Linked DNA regions of Homo sapiens: regions 1 and 3 are each linked to region 2. The links come from fine-mapping of genetic effects on gene expression. A gene starts in region 2. Each other region holds a variant in brackets. All regions are shown on one strand. Distances are from middle to middle.

Region 1 (6,214 bases), 110 kb after region 2:
TTTTATACCATTTTTTTTTACTGTACTTTTTCTATGTTTAGAAGCACAAGTAGTTACCATTGTGTTATAGTTGCCTACAGTACTCAGTATAGTAGCATGCTGTATAGGTTTGTAGTGTAGGAGCAATAGGCTATAGCACACACCCTAGGTGTGTAATAGGCTATTCCTTCTAAGTTTGTGTAAGTGCACTCAGTGATATTGACACAACAATGAAGTTGCCTAACAATGCATTTCTCAGATCAGATCCCTGTTAAGTGATCCATGACTGTATTTACATTTTTTCCAGCATCAGTTTTGATACATTATGTTGGTAAAGTTCATTTCACTTAAATTTTAAAATTTATTTGTGTAAAGGTATTCCTTATATCTTCTTTTAAAAGAAAATGCCTGTAGGATCTATAATAATGTACTATTTTTATTCTCACATTAGTATTTTATGCTTTCTTTTTTTATAATTAGTTTAGCTTTTGACTTAGATTTTTCTCTATTGTACATTCGTTTTATTTTTCATTTAATCTCTACCCTTATATTTATTTCCTTTCTTCAGCTTTCTTTGAGTTTAACTTACTCTTTTTCTATCTTCTGGAAATGGATAGAGCATCAATTTTTAGCCCTTGTTTTTTTCCTAATATTATATTTAAGCCCACGAATTTCCCTCTTATCACAGCTTTAGCTGCATCCAACATGTTTTGATTTGTCTTATTTTCATTATTTATGTAAAATGTTTTGAAATTTCCCATGTCATTTTTTTCTTTGACCCCGGGTTATTTAGAATGGCCTTACTTAATTTCAAAACAGTTTGACATTTTCTGGTGTTCCTTTTGTTGTTGATTTCTAGCTTAATTCCACTGTGGTGAGTGAACATAAATAATTTTAGTCTCTTTGTATTGTTGAGACTTGCATTATGGCTCAGCATAGGGTGAAATTTGGTAACAATTCCAGAGGTACTTGAAGAATGTTTTTGTGTTATCACTGCTGAGTGCTGTGTCAGTGTATTTGTCAATTAGGTCAGATTTCTTTGATTTTGTACTTTGGCTTTGAGATGGCTCTAGGCTCATCCTCCCCTCACCATTCTCTTTCTACTTTCTTGCTCATTAAATCTCTTTGCCCTCTTGCTTGCTTTTACCAGAGCTTCCTCTTTTGATCTAGCATCTTTTTGATCCATACATGTTTTCACATGATTTCATTTGGCTGTCTTCCCCTTAAAATTCTGGTTTCAATCATCGCCCTTTTTCCCTTTTGTTCTGTGGCTTTGCTCAGCAGGTCAGCATGGTCTTTGTGTCCTTTAGACCTTATTTGTTAAAGGAGCCAATCAGCTCCATCAGCAGGCATTCATTAGCACATGTTGTGGGACTTTAGAAATTCCTGACATTGTTCACTCAAGGGGCTTGTGATCTGGCTGGAAATTATAGTATAGTTAAATATACAGATTTAACAGTAGTACAAGGAAGTATATAATATGAACTATATGTGTGTTGTAGGGTAGAAGAAGGGACAGTCACTATGGGCTGGAATGGCTTTGTAGGGAACTTGGTATTTGGTCTGAAATCAAAAGATGGGAAATAGGGAATTTGCCAGAATAAAAATCCAGAGGCAGGAAAGCTTAACTACTTTGTGTTTGTATTTCATAAATTACTTTGGCTGGAGAGGACGATGTTAGTGTGCAAAGCTGTAGTGGCCTGGTCCATAGAGGTAGGCTGGGACTAGGTCATAAGGAGCCTTAAATGCCAAGCTATTACATTTAGACAGCATTCTGCAGCTACAGAGGCAAGGCATTGGAGATGATGAATATGTGCACAGGGATTTGATGTGGTGAATGTAACATTTTTGGGAAAATTATCTGATGGTTGTATACAGAATATAATTGGAAAGAGTCCAGTAAAATCCTGGAAAAATTATGTGATTTGAGATTATAATGTGCATAGAAAGATAACAGATGCATACAGAATCAGGAGAAGGGAGTTGATTTACTTATAATGCTTAAGAAATCCATCCTAGGTTTTTAAGAGACCAACAGTGCTGTGGATAGAAATAGAGACACAGGGAGGCAGAGCAGAATTCAGACACAGGTGTCAGAATGTGCTCAAGACCAGAGAGCTGAAGCCATGGTGCAGAGGTGAGATTTAGCTTAGGCAGACTTTGCAACTGAAAAGAGCACAGGTGTCAGGAGGTGTCAAGATGGTGTATGGAAGGGCTCCCGCAGAGTTCTCTCTGAGATAGCAGAATTTCAGGAGGTTTGTGAGGAATTAGGGCTAGCCATACCAGCTGTGGAAGCCAAGGTAACCTAACATTGCTGTCCAAACTTATAATCTCTAAAGTAACAGACCAAAATCGATTAACAATAATAATGGCACTAATAAGGAAAAGCACAGCAAGCTCTCAAACCGCAAGTGAAATTCATTTGCGCCATTTGGGGTTCACTTTTAAAGGAGTAAGCTATTCTTCATGTATCCTCCTGTTTTGAAGGTTTCCCTGAAACTGTCCAGTTTTGCCTCAACCAAGGCGATTTGCTAGGAAACAGGAGAGAATTCTAAACTCCAATTAGCCAGTGCTATTGGAGATTAATAACACTTTAGACCTGCTGGAAGCGACTTCACATCTAAGCTTCTTCCTACTGTGTCATAGCAACAATTTACAAATTTTAATAATAGATGTCCTGTTTGAGAAATTGCCTTTCCTTATGCTATGGGAGGTTTTATGATTAGACTATACCTCTTTCCTTGCAGTTGTTTTCAAGGCGTTTATGTTACCATTTTTGCTTATCAGTAATGGTTCAAAAATTTTCTAACACAGAGCAATTAATATCTGTCAGTAGAAATAAATTACATTTTTCATCGCTTGTGACACACTCTCAAATGCTGTTTGAAAGTGCCATAATTTTGCATCATCATGCTATGTAATTTTGGTGCCTGGTGTAGGAGTGCTTTAGGGGTATGATTTATATTTTCTGTTTTTTTTTTCTTGAATTAATAGGGTAGGTGTAAGGATTAGGATATAAGTTGGAAAATGACACTTTGCAGAATAATTTGTATTATTTCTGTTCTTCTAAAGCAGTCTGTCTTTTAGAATTGTTCACATATTTTATAAATATATTTGTGCATGCAGATTGTGTATATTATAATGTTACCATCAGTAACTTTTGCCTTATAGCACTAGAAGGGACAACATGCTTTTAGAAATTGAATGCTTAGAATATATGTATGTTCAGAACATATTTTTCATTGCCATAAGGAAGAAGTGTATAACATTTGCAACATTTTTACCTCTGTAGGATCCTTGTCGTTTAAGCACAGCAGGCCCACCCTAGTGCTCTGTTTTAGCCAGCCGTGATTACTGGCCACAGATGAGAGCCTATGACAGGCGGAGCACCCAGGCCACCTTCTGCTTATTTTTGGCCCCATTCTCTTCTCCTTTGGCCCTGCA[A/G]CCTGGTGTTGACATGTGATTTTAGCCTGGTGCTTTTAGGTTACCGATTTGTACTCACCTCTGGTTTGATAGATTCCAACTTGCCTGGAGGCTCTTGCCAATTGTCTTCTACCACTCACTGCCTACCTCTGACTCAGTCCAGTGAGAGATGATGAGAAGGATCAGAGGATGGGGGAGGGAGGCTGCCGGGACCCGGGTAAAAAATCAAAAAGGACTTGAGCCTACTAATTAAACCTCTCAAATTGCAATTGTGCTGAAAGCTCATACTGCTCTCGTCAGTGCCTAATTGATGAGTCCATTACTATGTTCAGTCATTGCTACCTGGCAGCCATTCTTAAAGTGAGCAATATATTTCATTCTATTAGACTACAATCAGTGATTCCCTTCTGAAACAGTGAAGAAAAGCTTTAACTTTAAATTTACAACTCAAATAATATTGCTTCTTCAATATGGCTATTATAAAGAGGAATGGAGTCAGGGAGGGACCACACTCACTCGACAAGGCTTTGTAGAGGATCTACTATCCCCAAACACAGTGCTGAGGGTATGATATTCCTGAGAAATGCTGTTAGGAGATGTGGTTTTCAAAATAATTCACAATGATTACAACTAAATCTGTCTTTACTCCCCATCTCTTAATGTTTTTATTTTTTAATTTAACACTGTCGGTTGGATTAGGCTTAGATAAAATACACATAAGAGTATAAGGAGATAGAAACCTAAATATAGGCGTTTTGTGCAACCAATGCATCGCTGCCTTATCTTGAAACTTCTGAAATTATCAAAAGCTACATTACTGTATATCATAGCAGCACAGCTGTGAGCAAAGCTGGGGCTTTGCTATTTTAAAATGTTAGAAGAGAAAGTGTATTGAATTTTTCAATTGAATTTTAAAAAGGTATCAGTGAATAGAGACTTGTCTTCTTACATGGGACTCAAACTATCAGATTCCCAAATAGAATTTTAGCAATTAATACTAGTTAAATGGGTTTCAGCAAGTCAAACCCATCTCCACAGAGCTATGATTGTAGTATATTTTTAATTATGGAAGTATTAAAAACAATCAGCTCACATTAACTTTTAAAATAGAATTATAAAGCAGAGCCTTTCACTCTAATTCCTTTGTTTAGGGAGTCATCAGGTATTAAGTGAGTCACTTTAGAATGAGCGGCTTATTTTTAAGAGTTTTAATATATTAAATAAGAATAACAGAAATCAAAGTAGAAGGAACCTTGGAAATTATGGTCACCTGACACTTGGTATTTCATTTAGAAAACAAATACCTAAAATTATTAAATGCAAAAAAGAAACTAAAGCTGCTCACTGGATGGATGGATGGGGCATTGGTAATTGGTAGTTATGGTTTTAAAGGAATAAGGGCATTAGGTTAATTGGCATAATGTGAAAACAGATGCTTTATATTTTCAAACATCTTATTAGTGATTCCCTATTGAGCTCCATTTTTAATTTAATATTTATGCAGGAGTTAATATTTTGAAAATGTTTATAGTCATTTTTATTTGTTGTATGTTTTATATGAGGTAGGTCAGTGCATTTTTTCATCTGGGTAAGTCATCAATTAACAGGTGGAGTACGTGGCATGTAGTAAACAGATGTTTCTGCCCTCGAGGGAATTACAAATTAAATTCGCCTCTTAGTATCTTACTATTCCAAAGGTCTTACCTTTGCTTAACCACGTATATCCTGCCAGCAAAACTGGTCTTCAGGAAATTGTGCCACAAAATGATACTAATGATACTAATACTAATACTACCAATACTAATACTACCACTGATTAAGGACATCCTGTGTGCCAGGCAGTATATTGAGTTCTTTGTGCATGTTGTATAATTTAATTTTCTTAACAGTGCCATGAAGCAGCTACTATCTCAGTTTTACAGACAAGGAATCGGGGCTTGAAGAGGTTCAGACCATGTAACTTGTATGTGAAGGTCTAGATCTGGTAAGTGAAGAAGTTAGTGTTTGAAACAACTGCTCCCCCGCACTGCACCGTATGGTGTCCTGTGGTAATAATGGTGGCTACATTTGTTGGTGGCTGTCTACTAAGAACTTCACAGCATATTTTCATTTAATGCCCACAACAATTTTAGGTATTTTATTCCAATCTACAGATGCAGAAACTGAGCTGAAGAGCAGTTAAAGAACGTTAGAACATTCTTTTTTTATTTTTGTTTTTTAATATTTTTGAGATGGAGTTTTGTTCTTGTTGCCCAGGCTGGAGTGCAATGGTGCAATCTTGGCTCACTGCAACTTCTGCCTCCCGTGTTCAAGTGATTCTCCTGCCTCAGCCTCCTGAGAAGCTGGGATTACAGGCATCCGCCACCATACCCAGCTAATTTTTTGTATTTTTAGTAGAGACAGGGTTTCACCATGTTGGCCAGGCTGATCTTGAACTCCTGACCTCAGGTGATCCACCCGCTTCAGCCTCCCAAAGTGCTGGAATTAAAGGCGTGAGCCACCACACATGGCCAAGAACATTTTTAAGAGTACACAGCTATGAAGAAACATAGTTTCAAAATATAGTGCTCTGCCTCCATACTCTGTTGCTATACCCATATTCCAAACTGCTCCCCTTTCAACGTTTCTTCATGTGCGTGATAAAGATATATAACCAATCCTTATTTGAATTGAAAGGAGCTCGGCATATATCTGTGAGTGACTGAATGGTGTTTTATTCAGAAAGTTTGTTTGGAGTATTTCTTATTCTCAATATGTTCTTCCCTTCTTAGCCTACCCTATCTTCAGTGTACTCCATCTCTAGATGACTAGG
Region 2 (6,214 bases):
GGGGTACATGTGCAGATTTGTTATATAGGTAACTCGTGTCACGGAGGTTTGTTGTACAGATTATTTCATCACCCAGGTACTAAGCCTGATACTCAACAGTTATTTTTTCTGCTCCTCTCCCTCCTCCCACGCTCCACCCTCAAGTAGGCCCCAGTATCTGTTGTTCCCTTCTTTGTGTCCGTGAGTTCTCCTCATTTAACTCCTACTTATATGTGAGAACATGCGGGTATTTGGTTTTTTGTTCCTGCGTTTGAAAACTGTTAACTTTCAAAGCATTAATGTATTACATGGCTTTAATAAAAATATTTCTTCAGAACAGAAATCTCGAAGGAAAAAAAAAGTTTCTCTCCAGATTGCAATGTCCCACACATTCATCTTTCACAGTGATATGACTGGTTATGGAGCTTGTGGAATAAGACAGAACTGGGTTTGAACTCTCTCTCTCTCTTTCGTTTTCTAATCCTTAGAATGGGTTTGAATTCCTGTGTGTGTGACCTGAGGTAAATGTCTTTGATTTCTCTACCCTTCAGTTTCCTCATCTGAGGAAAGAATAATATTTACCTCTGAAGGTTATTGTGAATATTAGATAATCTACATAAAGTGCCTTACATAATGCCTGGTCCATGGTTATAGTGTTCAATTAATGGCAGTTCTTTTTATTCGTACATGATGAGTTAGGAACACCCAGTAATTTGGACATGACACATGGTAGAAAAGTCTTAGGAGGAATGAAGGAAACACTGGCAGAGATGAGCTGCAAAATTTCAACTCTTTAAACATTTTCCTGGTGCCACAATATGTATGTCCCAGACTGGACTGGACAAAGCGACTCTTTACTGGGGCTGTTACTATTCTCACAACTCCTCTCCCTGTTATTCCTCAGACAGAGCTAACAATCTACACAAATAGCACAGATGTGGGCTCTTGGACAGCCAGTCAGACATTTAGCCTTCTTGCGGCAGTGAAAAAATCCTTTCCCTGGCGTAAAGCTTGGCACAGGGTAGGCACTCAAAATTTTGTAGGTTTTCCTTTTCACCGCCGTGGCCCCAACTAGCACAGGGCCTTGCACACAGCAGGCGTCCATTTACTGAATGAGCGCATGATGAATGAGCGCATGATCATGTCACCTGTTTCTCCCTCTTCCTCCAAACCCCTGTTCTTCCGCCTCTGCCCCACGCAGCCAGCATATCCCAAGGAGCCAGGCGCAAGCCAGGCCTGGTTCACTGACTCGCTCCCCGCGCGAGGCTGCGGTTGCTATGGAAACAGCGGGAAATAACAACTCCGTTCCCCTTGGGTGAGAGAGGCCCGCAGAGGTAACAGCAGCTGGAGGAACAGCGTGAGCGGCGCGCAGCCGCCGCAGAGTTCACCACTGTGCCACCCGAGCCGCACCGCCCCGCCCCCGCGCGGCCGGCGCCCGAGCTCCCCTCCCCTCTCCAGCACGCGAGTGTCGGTAGGTACTACGGCGGAGGGCACCTCCTGGGCCCGCCTCCCCAACCAGGGCCCCGCTTGCGCGCTGCCTGCTGTCTTCACGTGATGCGCACCCGAGCTTCGCCGCCAGGCGGCGCTGATCATCGGGGAGGGGGTTAGGGGTCCTAGACACGCGAGTCTTCGCTCTGTTTCTCATTCATTCATTCATTCACTTAAATGTTATTTTTCCCTTCCTTCCTTCCCTCCCTCCTTCCGGGATGGGGTCTTGCTGTGCTGCTCAGGTTGGTCTCAAACTCCCGGGCTCAAGTGAGCCTCCTGCCTCAGTTTCCCAAAGTGCTGGGGTTACAGGCATGAGTCACGGTACCCGGATTCTCTCTTTCTCTCTCTGAATATATATAATATATATAAAATATATATATAAAAATATATAATATATATAAAATATATAAAAAATATATATAAAATATATATAATATATAAAATATATATAATATATTATATATAAAATATATATTATATAGTATATATAAATATATATACTATATAGTATATATAAATATATATAATATATAATATATAAAATATATATAATATATAATATATAAAATATATATAATATATAATATACATAAAATATATATAATATATAATATATATAAAAATATAAAATATATAATATATATAAAAAATATAAAATATATAATATATATAAAATATAAAATATATATTATATATAATATATAAAATATATAAAATATATAAAATATATAATATATAAAATATATATAATATATAAAATATATAAAATATATATAAAATATATAAAATATATAAAATATATAATATATATAAAATATATAATATATATAATATATAATATATAAAATATATAATATATAAAAATATATGATATATAATATATATGATATATAAAATATATAATATATATAAAATATAAAATATAAAATATATAATATATAAAATATATAATATATAATATATAATGTATAAAATATATAATATATAATATATAATATATAATATATAAAATATATAATATATAATATATATAATATATAATATATTATATATATAAATATATATAATACATATATATTATATATATTATATATAATATATAAATATATATATAAATATAATATATATATTTATATATAATATATAAAATATATATTTTATATATTATATATAAAAATATATAATATATAAATAAATAAATAAAATATATATAAAATAAAATATATAAAATATATATATAAAAAAAATATATATTTTATTTTCTAAGACAGGGTCTTGCTGTGTCGCCCAGGCTGGAGTGCAGTGGCAAAATCATAGGTTACTGCAGCCTCGACCTCCTGGGCTCAAACAATCCTCCCGCCTCAGCCTCCGAGATAGCTGGGTCCACAGGCGAATACCCTGCCCACCTACTTTTTTTTTTTTTTTTTTTTTTTAATTGTAGAGACCGGGTCAGGCTGGTCTCAAACTCCTTGCCTCAGGGGATCACAGGCGCGTTATAGAGACGGGGGCTTTCCCTGTGTTTCCCAGGCTGGTCTAGAACTCCTGGTCTTAGGCAGCCCTCCCGCCTGGGCCCCTCAAAGTACTGGAATTTGCAGGCGTAAGCCACCGCATCTGGCTTTGCACATTTATCTTCCAGCAAAGAAAAACCTGGGCAACTACATCCAGGAACTTAATTGCTTTAATTTGGGAGCAAGCAGGAGATTGAGGGGTAAAGGTGCAAGAAGAGAGAAAAGAAAAATTAGGCTGTTTGGAAAGGGTAGCACAGATATGATGTAAGAAATTGGGTTTCACCATATTTGTGTGTGTGTGTGTGTGTGCGTCCTCCTCTCTCCTGCCCTCACTAGGCGTGCCTGTTTGAAGGCCCCGCGCGTTTCCGGCTCCTGCTCAGAAGCTGTCCACCTTGATTCTGCCCGTAGCAGGTGAACCTGGTGTGGTGCGCGCACTGCGGGTCCTGATTGGCTGTGCACGCCACGGTGAAAAACTTGAGCGTCTACTCCGAGTCCTGCAAGCTCCTAGTGTCTCCTCTGGGTGGACGCCTAGGCGCACGGCCGTTACTTCTCTTTCACCTGTGGATTCGTCAGTTTCTCGTTCGTTTCAGGAGGCGATCCCGCGCCCTGGGTGCGGTGAGGCCGCTGGGACAGCGGAGGTGCCTCCCGACGCGAAGCAGCGAGCTGAGGCGGCGGCCAGCGGGGAAGATGAGCGGCAGCAGCGCCAGGTCCAGCCACCTGTCTCAGCCCGTCGTGAAGAGCGTGCTTGTGTACCGCAACGGGGACCCCTTCTACGCGGGGCGCCGCGTCGTCATCCATGAGAAGAAGGTGTCCAGCTTCGAAGTCTTCCTGAAGGAGGTGACCGGCGGCGTTCAGGCACCCTTTGGGGCCGTCAGGAACATCTACACCCCGCGGACTGGCCACCGAATCCGGAAGCTAGACCAGATCCAGAGCGGGGGCAATTACGTGGCTGGAGGCCAGGAAGCCTTCAAGAAACTCAAGTGAGTCGGTCTCCCCCACCGCCCACCCATTTAGGTGCCCTATAGTGTGGGGTTGATATGAAGAAATGCAGATCCCTACCCCCCCACACCTCAGTGGTTGAGGGGCTGTGACTTCTCGGTGTGATTGATGCCCCTCAAAACTCTCGTTGCAGTTGGGGGGTAGAGGTTGACACTGTGACTGGAGAAGGAATTTCACTTGGGTCAGCAGTAGGAGTAAACTTAAAATCTGTGTATAAACAACAGGAATCTTAAAGAAAATAAAAAGGTATCCTTGCAAAGGTTAGTGACCAAACTGATACTTTTGCGTTTTCTGTTCAGTTTTTTCTTTCCTTTTCCTTATTTTTTTTCCTTGGAAATCCATCCTTTTAATTTAAATAAACATTCTTAAAAATCACTTCCAAGTGTTGGACACTATATTGTCACCAGAGGAGAAAATTGCTCTGCATTTCCCGTACTGTTTAAATTATTTCAACCTTTCATTCCAAGTAGAATTGACAACACTCACTTTTGTGACCCTGCTCCCACCCCCTGCATGTTTATGCTGTTAGCATAATGCAGGAAGAGTTTACTGGCTGACTGTATTTGTCGACTGTCTGTCTCCAGCAACGTGATTAGACCTTCAAGGGCAGGGGTCCTTATTCCCAGCTCTTGAGCTCACTCATAGTGAGTGTTCAGTGAATTAAGAAACCGTCAGTTCAGGGAACAAAGATGAGCAAGGCATGATTCCTTGTCTTTAGGAGCTTTCAGTCTAACTGGACTACCTGCACACTAACAATTTTAATGCAAGCTACAAAGGGATATGTGCATAGAAAAATAAAGTTATGTGGGAATTGTGAGTTGAGAGTTGGTTGGGGTGGTCATTATAGGACAGGTAGAATTTTACATTCCATTTTTTTTTTACAGCTTTATTGAGATAGATTTCTCATGGCATGAAGTCCAACCATTTCATTGGCTTTCAGTGTATTCAGAGTTGTGCAACCATCACCACCAACTAATTGTAGTTCATTTCCACCCCTCCCGCCAAAACATTTGTACCTCCCAGTTTCCTCTGTCCCCTGTCATCTGGAAACCACTAATCTATTTTCTGAATCTATGGATTTGTCTATTCTGGACATATCATATAAATGGAATCATACGGTATATGGTCTTTATGTCTGGCTTATTTCACTTACTGTAACATTTTCAAGGTTCATCCATGTTGTATCATACATCAATACTTCATTCTTTTTATTGTTGAATAACATTCCATGATTTGGGTATATTACCTTTTATATCCATGCTTATCCATTTATCAGTTTGATGTATATTTGGGTTGTTTCACATTTTAACTATTATGAATAATGCATCTATGAATATTTGTGTACAAGTTTTCATTTCTCTTTGGTGTATACCTAAGAGTGAAATTGCTGGATCACATGGTAACTCTGTATTCCATAGTTTAATAGAACATTTTAATTGAAATTCATCTTGGGCCCCAGGATAGAAAAAAGCCTTGACCATAAATCTAAGCTTATGAATTCATAAGCATTATTGGATTCTTAATAATTAAAATTCAAATAAAGTCTTATAACTACATAGAAATATTTTTCAAAATATCACTAAAATTCTTGAATGTAATCCTTCTTCTCCTATATTTGTTTAAATTGAGTTCTAGGTATTCTATTATACTTTTTGTTACGTCAGACATTCTTTTCATGGAAAGTGAGGGATATATTTGGATTTATTTTTCCCTCCCCTGAAGCTTCTTAAGCATGCTTTGTTAAACTTCGTAAAAAAGGGCTAAATGAAATTGCATGCTTAAAGGAAACTTAAAACCAGGAGACTGAAGACTGAGTTGCTCATCAGCTCTGTGTCCTTGGGCAAGTCGCTTGACTCAGCTAATCAGTTTCTTAATACAGAAAAGGTGCATAATCATTTGTACCACACAGGGCTGTGATAAAAAGTAAATGCTATAGATGTGTGTTTTGTAAACACCAAAGTGTTACATAAATATAAGACACCTCTATGACCAGTTCCTTTTGTTACATACTTTATTTTTTATTAAATATTTCCGTCTAAAGCAATTTCGTGGAAATGAAAGTCTGGTTCAGAATCTCTGAACGGCTGAAAATTGTAGACTCACTTTTATAGTTCATGTTCTTTTGTTTATTTGATCCTACCAACTCACAAGATTAAAAAAAAAAGGTACAGTTCCACACCAAATAAAAAAGTGTACTCAAGTCTCTCTAAGAGATTTGCATGTTATTTTTGCTTTCAGTT
Region 3 (6,214 bases), 98 kb after region 2:
ATTTTTTTTCTGCTTGATCATTTCTGCTATTGAGCGACTTTGATGCCTTCTTCAGTATGTCAAATGAAGTTTTCAGCTCTAGAATTTATGCTTGATTTAAAAATTTCAGTCTTGTTAAATTTATCTCATAGGATTCTGACTTCCTCCTCTGTTATCTTGAATTTCATTGGGCTTGCTCAAAACAGGTATTTTGAATTCTCTGAAAGGTCAAGTATCTGTATCACTCTGGGATTGTCACTGGTGCCTTATTTAGTTTATTTGGTGAGGTCATGTTTCTCGGGATGGTCTCGATGCTTTGGATGTTTGTTGATGTCCGAGCATTGAACGGTTAGATATTTGTTGTGGTCTTCACAGTCTTGGCTTGTTTGTACCCATCTTTCTTGAGAAGGCTTTCTAGGTATTCCAAGTGTGTTGTGTGTTGTAATCTAAGTCTTTGGTTACTGCAGCTGCATCTGCATTAGGGGGCACCTCAAGCCGAGTAATGCTGTGACTCTTGGCAGATGCGTGGAAGCACTGTCTTGGTGATCTGGGGTAAGATCCAAGAGAATTCCCTGCATTACCAGGCAGAGACTCTTTTCCCCTTCTCTTGCCTTCCTGCAAACAAATGGAGTCTCTCTCCATACTGAGCTCCCTGGATCCTGGGGCAGGGGTGACACAAGAGCCCATATGGCCACCACCACTGGGACTGCACTGGATCAGACCTAAAGCCAGGGCAACACTGGGTCTTGCCTAAGGCCCACAGTGACCACTGCCTGGCTATTGCTGATGTTCACCCAAGGCCCAGGGGCTGTTCAGTCAGCAGTTGGTGAACCCAGCCAGACCCATGTCCTTCCCTTCAAGGCAATAAGCTTTTCTCCCTGCTGGCCCAAGGTGGGTTCCCTTCTGGCCCTGGGTGTGTCTGGAAATGTCATCTGGGAGCTAGGGCCTGGATGAGTGCATCAGGGCTCTGCCTGGCACCCTATCCTACTGTGGCTGAGCTGGTGTACAAGTTGCAAGACAGTCTTCTTTACTCCTCCTCCTCCTCTCCTGTAGCAGAAAGAAGGAATCTCTCCCAAAGCTGCGAGCTGTACTGCTTGGGGTTGGGGGAGGGGTGGCACAAGCACTCCCTTAGCCACCCTGGCTGGTGTCTCACTAATTTGTGTGCACCCCAAGTCCACTGGCTCCAAGGGCAGCGCAGCACCAGGGCTTTCCCAGGAGTTGCACTCTTTGTGGCCTAGACTGTCTTTCAAGTTTATTTAAGTTTATCAAGTTTATTTAAGTGCTCTGGCACTTTAGCCCTCAGTGATGGGGCTAGTTTGAACTCAGGTTCTGACTGCTAGGATGGGACAGTTTCCCTCTGGCTGGGGCTGGTCTAAATGTTCCCTCCATGGGCACTGGCTGAATTCTGCCCCATGTTGCTTTCTGCTGTGACAAGGCAGCAGTGAGTTACAATGCAAAGTCTCACAATTACTGTGCTCTCCCTCCCCTAAGCACACAGATTCTCTCTCGGTGTCACGAGGCTGCTGCTGGGGGACGGGGGTGGGGTGGTGTAGGCAATTCAAGACTGTCTTTCCTACCATCTTCAGTGCCTTTCTCCTTGATACGCTGTTAAAACCAGGCACTGTGATTGCTTACCTGATATTTGTTTTTTATGAAGGGGCTTTCTCGTGTGGATAGCTGTTCAATTTGGCATTCCTGTTGGGGGGTGGACAGTGATTGCTGGAGGGTTTTATTTGGTCGTCTTGCTCCACCTCATTTCCTGACATAGAATTTTTGGTTGGAGATACTTTTCAACTGGAATTTTGAATGGGCTACTTCATTGATTGTTTATGTTCATTGCAGCTGTTAAGATATCTGATGCCTGTTTATCTTAATTTGGGTTTCACCAAAAGCTATGCTTAGTAGATGACGAGCTGAGAAAAGGACTTGGGTGCAAGTAATTCATTTGGGAATTGACCTCGGAAATTAGGGGCAGGTAAGACATAAGGATGAGAAAAGTCAATAAGGAAGGATATTATTGAAAAAGTTACTCCTGTGGGCAACTGCACTCAGTCCTGCTGGGACCCTCTCAGAGCCCATGAAACACACCTTAGAATTGTCCCATGCAGGATCAAGGAAACTGGGATGTCTGTCTCCCAATTACTGCCCTTTGTTGCTTGAGGGTTTTACTTGGAGAATTACCTCCCTGGCACTCCAGCCCATCCCATACTCAGGCTGAACATGCTTCTCTGGCCAGAGAAGAGATTCAGGCAGAGAAACTCAGGAACTTGAGGTAGAAAGACCTCAAACCATATGAGAACTGTCCACCAAAGCTGCCATAGAACTTTGGCTTGGGCTAAGAAGTTACAAACCTTATGTGCATAACATTAGTAGCAACAAAAAAAAGCACTGACATCTCAGATCAGAAACAAAGGTAGAGACATTCTGCAGAGTAGTTGAACACCAAAAAAAAAAAAAAAGCAAGAAAATGGATTTAAAATGTACTTAATGAAGGATATGGAGAAGATGTTAGCTGAGAATTCTAAAATTGCTCTTTTTGTATGAGGTGAAAATTTTGCAATCTTAAAATGAATTACTATTCTTCTGTAACTGCAGAATTGTTTAAAAGATTCAATTAAAAGCATAGACAGTTCCCATGTCAGACTAGACAAAGAATGTATTAGGAGCAAAAGGGAACAATGACTGTTTCTCTTAAATAAAAGAATTCTGTCATTTACCCCACATTGGTACCAGAGTTCTCAATAATTCAATCCAATATTGGAATAAGCAGTGTGGGCTGTCATTGTTCTGGGAGTCAAGAAGAGTAGCCTCCCAGGACAAAAACTTGAACC[A/G]TTGAGCACCATCATTGACAAATGGTCTCCATATTTTCTCTGGCACTTTTTATCCCAGCATGGTTGAGATTTATTATATTTTCAATTTGGTAAGGTTTGCTAGTTAAAACAGAGTTCCAGACCTAATTAGTACAGCACTCTATAACTTTTAGATGGATGAGTTCACATCTTAGAAATTTTTATTTTCTGAGCAAGCCTCAGACAGAAGGGACAGAGAAATAAAGCTTCTTTAGTAGCTAGATGGATATAAGGCAGCTGTTCAACTGTGAGGCAAGCTGCCTGTTTAATTTTTAGAAATTAGTTGGGAGAATAATCAAATTCTCTTTAGACTTTATTCCTGCATTCACCCTGAGGTTATAATTTAGAAGCATGATGATGGTTATTTAGCATTTTTATAATAATGAAACATTATGACTGAGAAAACACTTTTGTAAAGTAGAAAGTGCCAAAAGAGGCAGTATCTATGTAAGGAGATACGAATTAGTCTGGACTGGTCTCCAAGTCAGAGATGAGGAACTTTAGTACCAGAAATGAGAGAGCCTAGAGATGAGAGGTGGGAACCGGCAACCCATTAATAATTCATGCTTTCCTAGTTAGCTGTCCCTTATAGCTTTGTGTCCTCCCCCTCCCAAGACTCAGTTGCCACTCTGGTCTGAAGCCAAAAGCTGAAGTTTCTTGGAAGATGATGAAAAAGTTTAAGGAAGATCAGTAGGATTAGAAAGGAGTAGAAGGAGAGAGGGAAGAAAAAAGTTAGTTGGGCAGACAGAATCATTTCTTATTCTAATAAAAATTTAAAAAACTAAAAATAACCTTAAGCATCAATTCTCTTTAACACCAGTTAGCCTCTAGGTTACTCTCTTTACTCCTAAGCTCCACTGAATTTTATTGTCAACATGGTGAGTACTGAGAGGAGAGGCATAAAAATGGGAAAACACTGTGGTTTGTTTTCTTCTCATGAAACTTACTGAGTTGGAGACTCAGAAGTGTTTCTAAGTCAAGGTAGGATATTACAAGTAGCAGAATAGAGTAACCAAGCAAGGCTTTGAGAGCACAGGGGAGAGAGGTTAAATCTGACTGCTGAGACTGGGAATTGATATTTATTTGAGAGAGAAAGTTCTAGGCATAGAATTTTGAAAAAAAGAAGAAAATAAAACCAGGACCAGTTTCAGCATTTAAATCTCTAATGCATTTTAAACCAAGAGTAGTTAAATGTTAATTAATCCTTCAAATTGGAAAAACAATTTAATTTAATATGAACAGGGAAGGGGAGAGATTGTTCAGAAATTTGCTTCTTGGACAATAGAGAATTGCTGTTTTTGTTTTCTTTTTGATGTTTCCGTGCTAGTTTAACCTTATAATGTTATTTTCATATACTTTTTCACATTAGCTTAAAAGTGGCCATGCACTCTTCTAAAAATCATAATGGTGACTGCGAATATCACTATTTACTCTAAAGACCATCACTTAGTAAACAACAAAACTTTCATTTTTCGTAATTATGTATCCCTCACTAAAAGGCCCTTGACACATTCTCAACGGCCTCTTTATAGATCTGAGCCTGGAAACAAATTTCTTCTTACATTAAGGCCCATATTTCTGACTACTTGAAATTTTTACCTTGATTTGTCACGTACATCCTACATGCACAAATTAAAAAATTCTCCGAGCTTTGGATTCCCCCTACATGCTGTTTTTTTTTCACATGTCTTGTATCTTTGGATATCACCCAGCTAGAAATCTGAGTGTGACCCACGCTAGTGGAAAGGGGGAAGAGGAGAGGAGTTCATAATATGAACAAAAGTTCTCTGAAAAGGAATTTCGAGGAAAGACTATTCCTGTGAACAGTTTGCAAACCAAGGAGATTGCAGCCTTTAGTGCACAATGAAGATGTGTTCTAGAGAACAAAGGGAGGGTTCAGGTTTTATAGCACAAGTTCCTGCCCAGGTTCATTTATGCAAATGAAGGATTCAAACTTGCTTAGCTCCTATTGATTGGTACAGCTGAGCCCTGATTGGTTGAGGCAGGTGAGCTCTGATTGGTTGGTTCAAGTGACTCTGAGAGTCCCAAAGTTGAACAGAAATGTGGATTTTCTGAGGGCTCAGAGTTATGTGTGTGACCTCTAGTCAGCAAAGGGCTACTTGGCTCTATTTTAAATTTAGACCCAGTGAGTGACTCAGGATTCAACTTGAAGGATTGGCTCTCTGAGGTTCACATTTGTTGACAGTAGTTTCCATATTGTGGTGCTACGGAGAGGTGAAGCCAGCTGGACTTCTGGGTCGGGTGGGGACTTGGAGAACTTTTCTGTCTTACAAGAGGATTGCAAAATGCACCAATCAGCAGCACTCTGTAGCTAGGATTGTAAAATGCACCAATCAGTGCTCTGTGGCTAGCCAGAGGTTTGTAAAATGCGCCAATTAGCACTCTGTAAAAGTGCACCAATCAGCTCTCTGTGGCTAGCTAGATGTTTGTAAAGTGGACCAATCAGTGCTCTGTAAAATGGATCAATCAGCAGGATGTGGGCGGGGACAAATAAGGGAATAAAAGCTGGCCACCCCCCGCCCCCAGCCAGCAGCAGCAACCCACTTGGGTCCACTTGCACGCTGTGGAAGGGTTTTTCTTTTGCTCTTCACAATAAATCTTGCTGCTGCTCCCTCTTTGGGTCCGCACCACCTTTAGGAGCTGTAATACTCACTGTGAAGGTCAGTGGCGTCATTTTTGAAGTCAGCGAGACCACGAACCCACCCGAAGGAACCCACTCTGAACACACTACTTCAGGAGGTTAGCAGTCCATGCCTGATTCCTTTCTAATCCCCTCCGTGTCTCCTCTTACACCACTTTAATCCAGTTAACTTTAGAGTCATCCTAGATTTTTCCATGCCTCATTCTTCACACTCAATCAGAGCTAATTTTCATTGATTCTACTTTCTCAGAGTCTCTTGAATCTGGTCCTTCCTGACCATCCTTGATTTAAGCTCCTTATTTTTAATGCAGACTACTGCAGCCTTTTTTCCAGATGGTCTCCAAGCTCCCTCCCTATCTGTACATCACAGCTCTGCCAGAGTGCTCTAAAAACACAAAACTTTTCTGATGAAATTTCTTTAGAAGCTTGTCACTTTCATGGCCTTTTTTTTTTTTCCCCAACTTCAGGCGTCTTCCACAAGCCTCCCTACATATAAAACATTTTAGAGTTTCTCGATCGCGTGTCTTTTGTATGTCTCTTTGCAGCTGTCTAGAATACCCATAACTTTATTCTCTTTAAGACTAACAGTGGCATCATCTCTTCTATAAGATCTGTTCTGAGACTCCCAGAGTTGAGCTTTTTCTTTGCTCTGCCTCCTAGTGGGACACAACTTTACAGCAGGTGTATTACAACAGCAGGTGTTGTAATTGAACAGGTTGTTTTC

Alleles and levels. Alleles are on the strand shown, and positions count from the first base shown. SD is a standard deviation of normalised expression in the study named. Not every link is listed here.
With allele G in place of A in region 1, the expression in prefrontal cortex of the gene that starts at base 3,354 in region 2 is higher (small effect, 0.35 SD a copy in BrainSeq).

Evidence for each region. PIP is the estimated chance that this variant, and not a neighbour inherited with it, causes the effect. A credible set is the group of variants that fine-mapping cannot tell apart.
Region 1: its variant is the best candidate, but not a certain one, in a credible set for the expression of DCDC2 in prefrontal cortex (BrainSeq, PIP 0.53).
Region 3: its variant is the best candidate, but not a certain one, in a credible set for the expression of DCDC2 in prefrontal cortex (GTEx, PIP 0.59).

What each region holds. Positions count from the first base shown.
Region 1 is chr6:24,247,493-24,253,706 of GRCh38, reverse strand. The region is part of intron 7 of DCDC2 (doublecortin domain containing 2); the gene reads left to right. Among named protein-coding and RNA genes, the nearest start is that of KAAG1, 110 kb to the left of the region's middle. The variant A/G (reference allele first, on the strand shown) is at 3,424.
Region 2 is chr6:24,355,199-24,361,412 of GRCh38, reverse strand. DCDC2 (doublecortin domain containing 2) reads left to right here and starts at 3,354. Exons shown (of 10, transcript NM_016356.5): 1 at 3,354-3,955. The coding sequence starts at 3,663. KAAG1 (kidney associated DCDC2 antisense RNA 1) reads right to left here and starts at 4,510. Exons shown (of 1, transcript NR_174942.1): 1 at 3,128-4,510. RefSeq lists enhancers at 1,118-1,207, 1,041-1,629 and a silencer at 1,348-1,497.
Region 3 is chr6:24,257,429-24,263,642 of GRCh38, reverse strand. All of the region lies in intron 7 of DCDC2 (doublecortin domain containing 2), which reads left to right. Among named protein-coding and RNA genes, the nearest start is that of KAAG1, 96 kb to the left of the region's middle. The variant A/G (reference allele first, on the strand shown) is at 2,811.